Linked DNA regions of Homo sapiens. The protein of the gene in region 4 interacts with the protein of the main gene of each other region in a biochemical or structural test. Each region holds a gene or a part of one and is shown on either strand. Other genes may lie near its edges.

Region 1 (4,139 bases), on a different chromosome or scaffold from region 4:
TTTTGGCTGGGAATGGCTCACACCTGTAATCCTGGCACTTTGGGAGGCCGAGGCGGGAGGATTGCTTGAGGCCAAGGGTTCAAGAGCAACCTGGCCAACATAGGGAGACCCTGTCTCTATTAAAAAAGAAGAGAAAAGAAAAGAAAAAAAAAATTTTACTTTTGAGAGACTTACGACTTACTCTGCCAGAGGCACCATAGGAAATATTCTTCTTCTTTTTTTTTTTTTTTTTTTTTTTTTTTTTTTTTTTGAGATGAAGTCTCACTCTGTCACCCAGGCTGGAGTGCAGTGGCATGATCTTGGCTCACTGCAACCTCTGATTCCCGGGTTCAAGTGATTCTCCTGTCTCAGCCTCCCGAGTAGCTGGAATTACAGATACCCGCCACCATGCCTGGCTAATTTTTGGATTTTTAGTAGAGATGAGGTTTCACCATGTTGGCCAGGCTGGTCTTGAACTCCTGATTTCAGGTGATCAGGTGATCCACCCACCTCAGCCTCCCAAAGTGCTGGGATTGCAGGCGTGAGCCACCGCTCCCAGCCCAGGAAATATTTTTACTAATTGTGTGACTTCAGGCAAGTTACAGAACCTCCAGAAACCTTAATTTCCTCATCAGTTATGGAAACAAGATGTACCTTATAAAGAATGTGTTAGCATTAAATGTGATTAAGTGATGGTACATTGCTTGACTCGGAGGTTCCATCCATGGTAATAATTGTAAGTACACTAATATATGTATATATACGTAATACACAAACAAATGTAATACAGTGTCTGTAGACATGCTAATATATGTATACAAGCGTAAGCATAGACGTATACCAAGGTCAAGCCTGTAGTCAGTTCTCAGTCCTCATCTGAGCTCATCAGCACAGGCTGTCCCTCCCTCCTTGACTCTCATCCTTTACTAGGTTTTGGGGACATTCTGCCCTCAGGGTCTTCCACACCTGCAAGGGCCCCTTCTCTTTTTCCTTTTTTCCCCTTTGCCCCAATCCCTAAATGCCACAGAGTTCAATCTTTGACCCCATTCTCTTTCCAATCAACAAGGGGCCTACCCAAGGTGAGAGCAGTGGGACCTGAGGCCCAAAAAGACTGGGCTGGAAAATGGAACAGGTCCCCCAGCATCCCAATGTGCCCGGAAAGGACGACACTCCAGGGGGAAACACCTCCTGCCACGCCCTGGTCTCCAGGGGTGAGCATCCAGGGTACTAGGGCAAGCTGGCTGCTCCCAAAGGCAAGATGGTGCCTCCTACAGGCAAGATGGCAGCCTCCACGGAGGAAGATGGCGGCTACCTTCCACCCACGACCCCGGTCAGCTGCTGCCCGGCCCACCTTGTGCCCACCTTGTGCCCACCTTGTGCGGCGTGTTGACCACAGAGAGGTTGTAGCCGTACTGGAAGGCTGAGCCAAAGGCCGCGCTCAGTGTCGCCAGCAACAGCGTCGGCTGGAGCCGCTGTAGGAGACAAGTCCAAGGTCGGGACGCTGTGGGCTTGGGCCTCGGGAAGTGGAGTGGCTGGGCCTCCACCTCCCTCCAGCCTGGGCTGGAAGTGGGGGATGGGGGATCCCAGGCCGTGCCCCCGGAAAAGAGGAGGAGGTGGCGCAGGGCTGGGGCTTTTGGGGGCTGAGGTCTCTGCACGCATTCATTCCCTCCTTGAGGATGTATCTGAGCATCTGCTACGTGCCTGGCCCTGTACTAGGCCCTGGAGGCCAAGTGTGAAGTAGGGGATGCTTTAGGAAAAAGGCCCAGCAAAGCACTGCCTTTAAGAAGCTCACTTTCTAGTGAGGGGAGCCCACCCCGTCCAAGAAAGACAAAGATGATAATTCCAAATAGCTAGAATGCTGTGAGGACAATAAAATAGGGTGATGGGTGGGGTAGCAGCCTGTGAGGAATGAGAGACTGTGTTCAGTAGGGTGGGCAGGGCAGGGAAGGCCTCTCTGAGCAGGCGCCCTTTGAGCCGGGACCAGAATGGATGAGAGGGAGCAGCTGTGTAAGCATCGGGGGGAAGAGCATCCCAGACAGAGGGACTCATTGCTTGCCTCTGCCTCTAGAACAGGCCCTTAGGAAAATCCCGGCAGTCGCCTGTGCTCAGGGCCAGGCTTTCCATGGTTGCCACAACACCCAGGGCAGCTTGGAGGGGAACTGGCCTGAGGGCCAAAGTCTGAGGAGCAGGTGGGCAGGGTCTCTGACCATGTCCTAGAGCCAAGGCCCTGGTGCATGCCCCCTCCCCACTGCCCCCTCCACCCCTCACTCCTGTTCCACATGTCCTCACCCCAACCCTCACACTTAGCTGCCTGGCTGCCCACAGCCCGTAGCTCTGCACATCCAGGAACAACCAGACAGAAGGGCAGGATTCGGGCATTCTTCAGAGGCCATCTCCCCTCGATCTTTAAGGGTAGGGGAAGCGGAGGGGAGCAGGGGTGGAAGGGAGAGAGGCATCTCCAGCACCATCCGCTCTCCCAGCATTCGCTCAGCCACCCTGGCCCATGTCTGAGCCATGAGGTTTGAGCATAGCTGCTTCTCCACATGGCTCTCCCAGGCCTGGTTATCCTGAAGAAAAAGGAAGCACGCTACCCGCTCCTTGCTAAAAGCATTCCACGGCCTTCACCTCCCTCCACAGGTCTGCACAGCTGGTGGGAGAGGGACAGTGACAGGTTCCTAGTCTTGGCACTTACCCCCTCCCTGGATGGAATGGGTGGAGGGGTTCCCGCCTCTTTGTTCTCCATCCTTGTTCAGGTGGGAGAACAGGTGTGCTCTACCTCCCAAGTGACACCTGCTCTGCGCCAGCCACCTAAAGACCGGCTGTTTCTCCCCTGGGCCTACCTGGCTTTATGATCCTTTTGCTCTCTGGACCCTGCTGACTTTCCCCAGGAGCAAATTCTCCTTGGAAATGTTGATAAGACACACGTTGCCAGTGCACAAATCATACACAGCACGAATTTCGTCTTTGCACCCACCAAGCCCCAAGCCGAAAGCTCCCTAGTTGCACCAAGGAGAGAGAAAAAACATTGCCTGACATTGGTCCGCAGAAATGAGGACTTTCAGAGACCCAGTGAGGCTGTGACCTGGATCTAGGATGCTTTTTCTGTGTCATTTTTCCATGTATGCCTCTTTTTTTTTTGAGACAGGGTCTTCCTTTGTTGCCCAGGCTGGAGTGCAGTGGCGCAATCTCAGCTCACTGCAACCTCGGCTTCCTGGGCTCAAGCTATTCTCCTGCCTTAGCTTCCCAAGTAGCCGGGATTATAGGCACGTGCCGCCACACCCAGCTTTTTTTTTTTTTTTTTTTTTTTTTTGAGGTGGAGTCTCGCTTTGTCGCCCAGGCTGGAGTGCGGTGGCGCAATCTCAGCTCACTGCAAGCTCTGCCTCCCGGGTTCACGCCATTCTCCTGTCTCAGCCTCCTGAGTAGCTGGGACCACAGGTGCCTGCCACCATGCCTGGCTAATTTTTTTTTTGTATTTTTAGTAGAGACGGGGTTTCACCGTGTTAGCCAGGATGGCCTGGATCTCCTGACTTCATGATCTGCCCGCCTCGGCCTCCCAAAGTGCTGGGATTACAGGCGTGAGCCACCGTACCCAGCCTTTTTTTGTGTGTTTTTAGTAGAGATGAGGTTTCACCATGTTGGCCAGGCTGGTCTAGAACTCCTGACCTCTAGTGATCCGCCTGCCTTGGCCTCCCAAAGTGCTGGGCTTACAGGCATGAGCCACCGCACCTGGCTTTTTTTTTTTTTTTAACTTTTATTTTAGGTTCAGGGTATATGTGAAGGTTTGTTACATAGGTAAACTCGTGCCACGGGGGTTTGTTGTACAGATTATTTCATCACCCAGGTATTAAGCCCACTTCCCAGTGTTTGTTTGCTGCTCCTCTCCCTCCTCCCACCCTCCAGCCGGAAGTAGATCCCAGTGTTTGCTGTTCCTTTCTGTGTGTTCCTAGGTTCTTCATATATGCCTCCTCTTGTGCATTTGGACTAATTGTCCATTTGGGGGAAAGAACAAATTAAACACTTTCAGAAAAACACAGTTATTATTTCTAATTACACTAAATAGTGTTAAATAAGTCAATAAAATATTGGACAAAGGTGCTTATTTCAGAATCATTTCTACTAGCATTTTTTTTTTAAAGTAGAGAATGATTGAATAAATTAGG
Region 2 (3,500 bases), on a different chromosome or scaffold from region 4:
TGTAGGACAATTATAAAAGCTGTAATATACATGTAATAAAAAAAATCACAAGGTGTGATATACATGTAAAGAAACATACTGGAAGGAAGAAAGAAAGAAATAGAGAAAGAGAGAAAGAGAAAAAAAAGAAAAAAGAGAAAGAAAGGAAGAAAGAAAAAGCAAGGAAGGGAGGGAGGTAGCAAGGGAGGGAGGAATGAAGGGAGGGAGGGAGGGGAAAGAAAAAAATTAGAAAAAATATTTAAAGCAATAATTACTGAGAATTTCTTAAAATTAATAATAAACCTCAAACCACAGATATAGGAAGCCCAGAGAATGCCAAGAATAAATAAAAAAAAAAGTTACAACCTGACATGTTGTAACCAAATGACCCCAGTTTTTTAAGAAAACGGGAATGAAGTACTATTTTTTGTTTTCTGAGACGAATTACTATTTTTTAAAGCTTTCTCTTCTTTTCCCCTTTCCCCTTTTCCTCTTGCTCCTCATTTCCAACTTAGCCCTTCAGAAATGCAAATACAACGTTTCACCTCCTCCCCTCACCAGACATTCGCTATAGGAAAAATTCTCCTAACTACGTGCTTCAAGACACAGCTCTCCTCCAGAGCTGACAGTCAATTTGCAGACCAAATTGCCAGGGAACTTTCATCTCTAGGGCGTGGCCTCGGAACTTCCACTCTCCAGGAGTGGTCTTGGAACTTTCTTCCACCTGGAGAGCATATTGAAAACATGCCCTTTTTGGTCACTTTTTCAATCTACTTCTGTCCATGTAAGTGCTACCTCAACTGTGCAGTAGATAACTGCCCGGTAGCAAGGGGACCCCTGCCCTTGCTCATTTCCTCCCCTACCATATGAAAATGCTTACTTTTTTTTTTTTTTTTTTGCCACTTCAGCTCCAAAGGTGAAACGGCACAGTTAAAAGCAAGAAATTTTGTGTCCCTTCCCCAAGCTAGCTTTGGAATAAATCCACTTTTCTTGTACCAGACCCCACTCTTGTTAATTGGACTCTACATGTGGTAAGCAACTAACTTGATTTTCGGTTACAATATAATATTCAACTTCAGTAAATCAAAGACAATTTTGAAAGAAGCCAAAGGGAAAAAAATGACCTGAAGAGTCCTGTTTAAATTTAGAATTCTGAACACAAATCTCTGGCGACTAGACTGAAGCTTGACCTATTCCTACCCAGACCCATTCCCACCTCACTAGGTACTTTGAATGGATATATGTGGAAACTCTTGGCTTCCCCATTGTGCACCATTCATATCTTATGCAAATAGTGCCTCCTACCTCCCTTGGTCACTCCCCAGTTGAATGGATGTTGGGAAGAGCCCTGCTGGTCTTTTCCAATATAACCAATAGCCTTGGTTCTATTTAAGCAAGACATTCCAGGCATGATGATTAGAAGCAGAGCCATGGGCTCTACTGAGCCTACTGTCTTGGCACCTGCCCTATGAAGACAGCCTAGCTAGAGAGGGGCTAGAATGGGCTATCCACAGTGTGGAATCTAGGGCAAGCGCCCTCTGGCCTGGGCCTCAGGGCAGCGGTGACAGAAGCCATAAGTGATCTTGGCAATAGCTGTGTTTGATGCCACATACACTAGTCAGATGTGAGTTAAGGAGAGCGTGAGATGCTAGGAAATGTAGGCAATGGGTACAGACAGATTATGCAATGATTTCAATGGTCAAAGGGAGGTTACTTGAGACAGAAGACAGGGAAAGGGAATCATTTTAGAGATTTGAGAAGAGTTAAGAAGTTTGAAATAGTCTTTAGGAGACAAATATAGCAGGATGGCCAGGCCATTTTTTTTTTTTTTTTGAGACGGAGTTTCACTCTTGTTGCCTAGGCTGGAGTGCAATGGCACGATCTTGGCTCACTGCAAACTCTGCCTCCCGGATTCAAGTGATTCTCCTGCCTCAGCCTTCCGAGTAGCTGGGATTATAGGTGCCTGCCACCACGCCCAGCTAATTTTTTGTATTTTTAGTAGAGATGGGGTTTCACCATGTTGGCCAGGCTGGTCCCGAACTCCTGACTTTAGGTTATCCACCCACCTCAGCAACCCAAAGTGCTGGGATTACAGGCGTGAGCCACTGTGCCCAGCTGGCCAGGCCATTTTAAGTGCAAATGTAAGTCTGTGACTCAATTTACTCTACTTGGTAATCTCCAGCAATTATCAGCTGCTTAAATACAGTTATTGTCGTATTCTTTAAAACAGTATCTATTCAGATTTGTTCAACTTTATTGGCAAGAATATTCCAATGGAATTTTAAAACAATCTTGGTTTTAGTTTTCCCTCTGCCACTAACGAACAGGTCGTTTGACATACGTGGACATCATGTAATTTATAGTAAAAAGGTTGTGGGAGGCAGATACCTAAATTCCTAAACAGCTGTCATCTAATCCCTTTTCCTCAATTCTTAGTGATAAGGAAAAAACATGTGAGGGACTTCACAGTAAAGCTATTATCATAGTACAATGTGTAGTTGTGTAACACCTTCGTTTGAGTTTCATGAAACCACCCATGATAACTGTAAGTGGCATACATTGCTGTACATGATCTTATCATAGAAATACAACATAAATATTAGATGTCATTCAACCCTTGATCAACAATGTTGGGCAGCATTAGTTATTCAAAAGTTTTCCTTATATGGAGCTGAAACCTCACCCCTGCTCCCCTGCTCCGCCGTAATTTCTGTATATTTGGGTTAGTTTTGTAATTCAAAACAGGTCTGCATTTTATTTATATAAAGTCCTACAAGGTATGTTCTCTCAAGTTTTCTCTTCTTCAGGCTAGACATTCTCAGTTTTTTCAGCCCCTTTCCTGATAAGGGGCTTACGTTCCATCACTATGCTGACCATTGTCTACTACTGAAGACTAACTAACACAGTCATTAACAGCAATGGAATTTTGAGGATGGAAGACATGTTTTCAGATTATGCCTCTGCCATCTGCTCACTGTATATATTGGATGTCTTCTGTTTGTCCCCCTAGATGTACTCCTCATCCTTCTTCACCTTACTTTGGCTACAGATGGCTGATGTGAATGAACATCAGTAGGCCCCCATGTCCTCTGCTTCCACCTGGATTTGGCCAACAGAAATTCCCGGCAGAGATGAGAGGGAGAGAATTGAGTGAGATCAAGGTGTCTTTTCAAACCCTGGTTAGCTCTGTCTTATGATTGCCTCAATCTATGTGTCCTTTTATGAAAAATCATGAGTTCTTTGAAGGCATCCTGCTCTATAGGGCTCTCCTAATGGATTCTGATAACTACTTCCTTGCTTGATGCCTTTGGACCTGGGGATGCTAGATATTCCGAGCTCCTGTATCGCTAGCCCCAGGTAACTGGACTATTCCTAGAATTTCACCGGATCTCATACCTACCTTTTTAAGTGATCACTTTGTAAATAAATTCTTCCAATTTTGCCTTAAGTATATGACTTTGATCAAGTTACCTAAGCCTTTTGAAGTTTCCTCACGTATCAAATGGACATAATAGAACCTA
Region 3 (3,500 bases), on a different chromosome or scaffold from region 4:
TTCTTATCCACAACACTGAGTGCTAAAGAGGTTCCAAGGAAAAAATTATTTGGAATACCACATTTAGCCATTTTATCATTCAAGTGAAAATGAAAAGTACACTTTTAGACATGCAAAGACTCAAAAGTTTATGTCACAATTTATTTGAAAGAAATTACTAAAGATTATTTACCAATGGTTAAAATGGTAAAATTTATGTTATGTGTGTTATACCACCAAAAAAAATTGTAAAAAAACAAAAAAGTAGAACAAATGAGAAGGAATGGGATATAAGAAAAATTTGTGACAACATAAGCTTAATTCTAAATAATTTTTAGAAAGTTGTTAAGAGTATAAGAGCTTAGACTTTCACAAACCAGTTTTTCCCTACTTTCTAGCCTCTTTTATTGTGAAATATAACACACATACAATTACATAAAGAAAAATATAAGATTAATAAATTCCTATAAACACACACTCTGGACCTGCACAAAGCCTAGAAGTGGAGCATTGCCTCTCTTGTTTCATTTCCTAATCAGCACCCCTAAACTTCCCCCAGCAACATCCTCTAGCTGACATTTTTGAGAATACACTTTTGCCTTACTCTATAGTTTTACCACCTAAATACGCATTTCTAAACAATACAGTGCCGTTTTGACTATTTTTTAACTTTATACCTAAATGTAGTCAAACAGTATGTAATCTTTCATGTCTAGCTTCTTTCATTGAACAATAATGTTTGTCGAGAGACAAGCATGACTATTGAGGCAGGAGAAGGTGCGCATTGTCTCATTCCCCACAAGTCTTCAACTCTTGTATTCAACTCTCCTGGGCAGCTGGCTCCTAGTTTTGAAATGTTTTGCTATGCACAAAGGCCATTTTATGCCTGCAACCACCACACTGCCACCCACTTGATCAGGTACAACACCCCCATTCCTTACCACAATCCCTAAAAAAGGATATCAACAGGGAGCTCAACTCATAATACATCCAACCATGTCCATCCCAGGCATACCTCTCCACTTCATGCCAAGAGCCTGAAGGAACAAATGAACACAACAGCTGCAGCTGGGATTCCAGCCTGCATTGTGTTACTGTTTTGCCTTAGCTCTTCAAGTAACAGTGGTGCCCACTATGGACCAAATACATATTTGACTGGACCACTGAGAGTGATGAAAGGCCTAGAAAGTCAGTAAGTCTCTACGTGCATTGCCTTATGCAGTGGCTACCTCTAAATGGGAAGATGACTCATCTGAGCAAGAAGGACTAGTATCAACTGGGTGACCATGTTGTCCAAGGGCCATACACTTACAGGCTTCAACATACTAGATTTACCACCAACAGGGATCTCAGAATTATGAAGTTACTGTGATAGAAGTTATTAAGAAATTATTTTAGGCAGATAGAGAAAAAAGGAGTCCTTGGAAAGTTTTCATTTCTTTTTAAAACACCTCCAAAAGTGTTTCTTGTCTAACAGAAAAGTCCCAGCTCTTAGAGCCAAGCCGGCAACCTTTAGTATGCATATGCAAGCCATTAGAAACTGGGTCCACTCAACATGGCGATTCCCACCTTTGTCCTCTTGCCCTTGCCCCACATGTATTTGGGAATATGGCCGCCCCACATATCCCCATGTGTGTAGAACATCATGGTGCCCTGCATTTGCATATTAAAAGGCTAGGGTGGGAAGGCCAGTTTTTTTCCGAGGGCTACCTGAATGAAAGCCTGGTCAAACCAATCCCCTAAGCTCTATGCAAATCAGACACCCCCTCCTCCAGCCTCTACATATACCTGCCTGGTACGCACCACACTTGGGGTTTCCTCTTTCGGCTGTGGAGCCCCCATCCCTCTGTCTCTGTAAGAGCGAACCTTCTGCCTTTTCTTTTCTTTCTTGCCTATTAAACTCTCTGCTCCTTAAAACCACTCCACGTGTGTCCGTATTGTTTAATCTAATTCAACGTGAGACAAGAGCCCTGGTGTTCCTCCACTCATGGGAGCCATATCATTACTATAATTGCTAACTAGAATGGGTTGCCTCTCAGAGGAAAAACAAGAAAGCTCAAAGGAGGGAAGGAAGAGTGGACGGGCAGAAAATAAATATTGCTGCTGGGATAGTTGTTTGTATTTTCATCAGTCAGGCTGCCAGTGGCTGCTCCTATGGAGGGACTGCAAGAAAGTCAATGATCTAATAAGAAAGTCCTGAAGATACTTATGAACGTTATAGAAACAAGCTGTGTTATGGCCTACACTCCTAGGAAAACTCCAAGTGGCTGTTTCCTGGAGAGAAAGGGTCAGAGGGAAACCAGTGGACTGATGCAAAAACCTAAAATGGACCTTTGACCTTTAAAAGTTTCAAATATGACAAATGAAGAGAGATGATGATAGTGGAGAACTTAGGGCTGTTAGGAGAAAGGAATTAGAATCGGGATAAAGATCCCCTGGAGAGAATTCCTGTATAGAGAGGGAAACTGTTGCTTTCCCTATCTCATTGAATACATTTCAACCACAACATATTCCTGAGTTTAATAGATACACCAGACTCCAAGTGGCTGTTATTTTGTCTCCTTTGACTGAACTGTAACTACAGTTTCTTTGGAACCTGGATCAAACACACCAACATGTTAATTAGATTCACTCATTTCAAATCCTGTTTACTGCAGGTTAAAGTATTGGAAGAAAAAAAAATCCAAGGAGTCTTGCTCCTTTTTTCTTTGTGAGCTTCCTGGACACTCAGATGTTGAGAAGAAGGGAACTGAAAAAGAAGCAAAAGAACTTCTGATTTTATTTGTCTGTTTGGACTTTACCAAATAACTGATATTTTGCTTTGTTCAAATCAAAGCATCCTCAACGGACATAAACTTGGATACCGGCCGGGCGCGGTGGCTCACGCTTGTAATCCCAGAACTTTGGGAGGCCGAGCTGGGTGGATCATGAGGTCAGGAGTTCGAGATCAGCCTGGCCAACAGTGAAACCCCATCTCTAAAAAAAGTACAAAAATTAGCTGGGCATGGTGGCACATGCCTGTAGTCCCAGCTACTTGGGAGGCTAAGGCAAGAGAATCACTTGAACCAGGGAGGTGGAGGTTGCAGTGAGCTGAAATTAGGCCACTGCACTCCAGCCTGGGCCACAGAGTGAGACTCCATCTCAAAAAAAAAAAAAAAAAAAAACCTGCATACCAACTTTATCTCAGGTGATTCTGCAGCTTTCTATGGTGGTAGAATGGTAACTACTGGGCCCCTGAAAAGTATATTATTCAAAAAAAAAAGGACATAAAGTCTGGATTAATTACAAGAGGGACAGATACCAATGAGTGGGATATGAATGAATGCAACCAACATTGAGAAACAGGTCATGAGAGCAGCAGGAGTAAGTAAAACTTTCTACTTTTTTGTTCCAAATCTGAACATACCAATTAATTCAGGTGAAAAGGCATATTTTTGATGAGCGTCAGTGTCAAAGAGTGGATTGCAGAAAGATAAACCATATTCTCTGCTATGAAGAAGCTAGCTAAGATTGGCACTTTT
Region 4 (3,500 bases):
ACCATCTTGGCCAGGCTGGTCTTGAACTCCTGACCTTGTGATCCACCCACCTCGGCCTCCCAAAGTGCTGGGATTACAGGCATGAGCCACCACGCCTGGCCCTGCTGGGTCTTTTTTAGACACTGAGAAATACAGCAGTGAACAAGAGAGACAAGCTTCTTGTTTTCATGGAACTTCTATTCTCATGGGAGGGGAAACAGACAATAAAGAAGAAACAGGGCCCGTTGCGGTGGCTCACGCCTACAATCCTAGCACTTCGGGAGGCCAAGGCGGCAGGCAGATTGCCTGAGCTCAAGAGACCAGCCTGGGCAACATGGCGAAACCCCACCTGTACTAAAATACAAAAAATTAGCCAGGCATGGTGGTACATGCCTATAATGCCAGCTACTCGGGAGGCTAAGCATCAGAATTGCTTGAACCCGGGAGGCAAAGGTTGCAGTGAGCCGAGATCGCACCACTGCACTCCAGCCTGGGCAACAGAGCGAAACTCCATCTCAAAAAAAAAAAAAAAAAAAACAACAACAACAACAACAGAAGATAATACGAGATTGTGTCAAGGCTATGAAGGAACAAACAGGGTGAGGGAATGGCACTTTACTCAGGGAGCTATCTTTTGTGTGTGTGTGTGAGATGGGGGTCTCACTCTGTCACCCAGGCTGGAGTGCAGTGGTACAATCTTGGCTCACTGCAACCTCTGCCTCCTGGTCTCAAGCGATTCTCCCACTCTGCCTCCCGAGTAGCTGGGACTACAGAAGTTCGCCACCACGCCCAGCTAGTTTATGTATTTTTTGGTAGAGACTTCACCATGTTGCCCAGGCTGGTCTTAAACTCCTGAGCTCAAGTGATCCACCCACCTTGGCCTCCCAAGGTGCTGGGATTACAGGTGAGCCACCACAAGGGCACTATCTTATATGCAGTCAGTGGTGTGTGGGGGCCAGCTCACATTGGCTTGGGAACAGCAAGTATACGCGTCTCTTCCCAACTCCAGCTATGCTATAAATCAGGGTCTACCCACTACTAGCACTGGTTGTTAAGCATTTTACAGCACACCAGAAGGAGGTCACTGAGGAGAAAGAAGCAAGACCAGAGATTCATGAGAAACCAAACAACTCTGAAAGACAAGGCCCTGTGTTTTAAAATGAGAGTTATTGTCATACATTCCAATGAATCAAAACAATACCAAAACAAAAAACCACACAAAGAACTATATTCAACCATATGTGATCACAATTTCCCTCATTACAGTGAGGGGAAGGGTCTGGTGGTGGTTTGGTTTGGCTTTTAAATTGTATCTCTTTTATTATCTCCACACTGCCACACATACACAAAAAGTAGAGGGATAGTTACAGTTCCTGGGTAATTTGAAAAACCACAAAATTCACCTGCAAAAATATGTAAGCATGACCTGTAATACACCACTTTGGGAAACTACAATCATACCATTTTAAACCTTTGGAGTCTGGGTGATTCATGGAAACAAAGGATTTCACGAGCACAAATAACCTGAAGAGGCTCACCCACTTATTTTTGGCATAGAGAAATGTAGGCTCCAAGAATGTGACTGGCAGAGCTTATTCTAGAACCCAGGTCACCTGTCTCATCTGATGTCATCTTCTCAATTTTGGTCTATACCCTAGTACAGTAGTTCTTAAAACTGAACCCTTGAATCCCTTAATAAGCCCATCAGAATCCCTTGAGGGTTTATTAAAACACCCCATGGTTGTTACCCCACCCCCCAACCCCAACCCCATCCCCCGCAAAGCTTCTGAATTGGTAGAACTAAGGTGGGGCCCAGGAATCTGGATTTCTAACCAGTTCCCAGGTTACTATACTAATGCCACTGGTCTGAGGACCTCACTTGGAGACCTACTGTCCCAGGAATTGGGAGCACAGGCTTTGGAATCAGACAGAGCTGGGTTGCAGCTCTACTGCCACTGTGGTATGACCCTTGGAAAAGTTACCCAAATTCTCTGAACCTCAGCTTCTAACATCTGAGTCCAATTGTAAGGACTGAAAAAGAGAATGCCCACGAAGCATCAGCTTAGCCAAGCACCTATTATATTCTAAGGCAAGATCTTAATACATACTAGCGACATCTTATATCCTGTATCAAAGTTTCCTTAATTACATTTTTCCGAAGCATATACTAGGACGGCTAAAATTCAAAAGACAAACAAAATCAAAGATGGCCAAAGATGTAGAGCAACTGAAACATTAATAACAGCTTTATTCGTAATAGTAAAAAATGGTAAATACTCCAAATGTCCATAAACAAGCAAAAGGACAAACTGGTATGTGTATACAATGGAATATTACTTAGCAATAAAAAAAGAACCAAATGAAGTACACATGCAACAAAACGAAATCTCCAAAATATTTTGTTGAGTAACAAAAGCCAAACACAAAAGAGTACATACTGCATTAGTTCATTTTTATGAAGTTGAAGACAAAATTATTCTATGGTAGATCTATGGTGCAGGGGGAGGGGGGAATTAACTGGACAGGAACATGAGAAAAATTTCTGGGGTGATGAAAATGTTCTCTATCTTCATTTGAGTGATTAACATGAGTGCATACATCGCTTAAAACTCATCAAATTATATATCTAAGATATGCATTTTACTATAGGTAAATGATACCTGAATACACATAATTATATATAACTTTGTAAAGGCATTTTATGACAAAGTACTGTCTTCCCCACTTAAAATGAACCAACTCCAACCTGACAAAGGACTGTCTTCTCCATTTAAAATGAACCAAGTCCAACCTGGCAGATCCATTGAGTTTGATTCCTGCACAATCCAGTCCTGTCACAGACAGTTTTGGTCCATGTATCTTTCCAGAGAACTGCCATGAAGTAGAAAAACAGAATTTTCTCCCACCATGTAGACAGTATCCAGAGTGATCTGTGTCCCTGGAAGTGGCTAACTTGGGATGCAAACAACACAAAAGTAGTATTTTTCTTTACCATATACCAAGTATGAGCCTGCTTGATATGACTTTAAAAGGCACAGTAATGAAGACACATTAAGAGCAATTCTGTCATACAATCTAAATCATATTCTCAACATGGAAGAGGGAGCAGAAAACTGGTGAAATGGTTTCTAGGGCCATCATTACTGGTAATGAAGACGTCAGAAGATCCAACTGTGCCTGTGTAATTATTACATGAAATAGTCACTTTCAGACTGCAATGAATTCCAGGCCATTCAGGTTTCCCAATCAGTATCATATTTCTATCCCATTACAAGTAGATTCACGTACATCCATCCATACATACATATACACACACACACAGAAACATACCCACACACTCGCCCCTGCTGTGAACAATCTGTGCACAAGGGGTGAAGAGAGCTAACACCTGGAGACACTACAGTTTCCTTTCAACTCAGAGGTGTCTGTTTCCAAACCCACTTGATTATCTCACCAAGCCTTCCTAAACTCCATGATGAGAGAGCCCTGGGACATCGCCTCCCAGAAATTTGGCAACTAGT

The links. Proteins that work in one complex are often made in the same cells at the same time.
Region 1: the proteins of MAGI1 (region 4) and SLC2A7 interact in a test that uses a peptide from one of them, tested with the Homo sapiens proteins (one large-scale study listed by IntAct).
Region 2: the proteins of MAGI1 (region 4) and SLC17A1 interact in a test that uses a peptide from one of them, tested with the Homo sapiens proteins (one large-scale study listed by IntAct).
Region 3: the proteins of MAGI1 (region 4) and ATRNL1 interact in a test that uses a peptide from one of them, tested with the Homo sapiens proteins (one large-scale study listed by IntAct).

The regions. Positions count from the first base shown.
Region 1 is NC_000001.11:9,023,624-9,027,762, forward strand, and holds the start of SLC2A7 (solute carrier family 2, facilitated glucose transporter member 7), read right to left. Parts: upstream 2,801-4,139; 5' UTR 2,723-2,800; coding exon 2,672-2,722; intron 1,452-2,671; coding exon 1,353-1,451; intron 1-1,352. UniProt on the Homo sapiens protein: Probable sugar transporter. Even if its physiological substrate is subject to discussion, it is able to transport glucose and fructose. Does not transport galactose, 2-deoxy-d-glucose and xylose.
Region 2 is NC_000006.12:25,815,053-25,818,552, forward strand, and holds part of SLC17A1 (sodium-dependent phosphate transport protein 1), read right to left. Parts: intron 1-3,500. UniProt on the Homo sapiens protein: Important for the resorption of phosphate by the kidney. May be involved in actively transporting phosphate into cells via Na(+) cotransport in the renal brush border membrane. Plays a role in urate transport in the kidney.
Region 3 is NC_000010.11:115,302,865-115,306,364, reverse strand, and holds part of ATRNL1 (attractin-like protein 1 isoform 1 precursor), read right to left. Parts: intron 1-3,500. UniProt on the Homo sapiens protein: May play a role in melanocortin signaling pathways that regulate energy homeostasis.
Region 4 is NC_000003.12:66,032,419-66,035,918, forward strand, and holds part of MAGI1 (membrane-associated guanylate kinase, WW and PDZ domain-containing protein 1), read right to left. Parts: intron 1-3,500. UniProt on the Homo sapiens protein: Plays a role in coupling actin fibers to cell junctions in endothelial cells, via its interaction with AMOTL2 and CDH5. May regulate acid-induced ASIC3 currents by modulating its expression at the cell surface.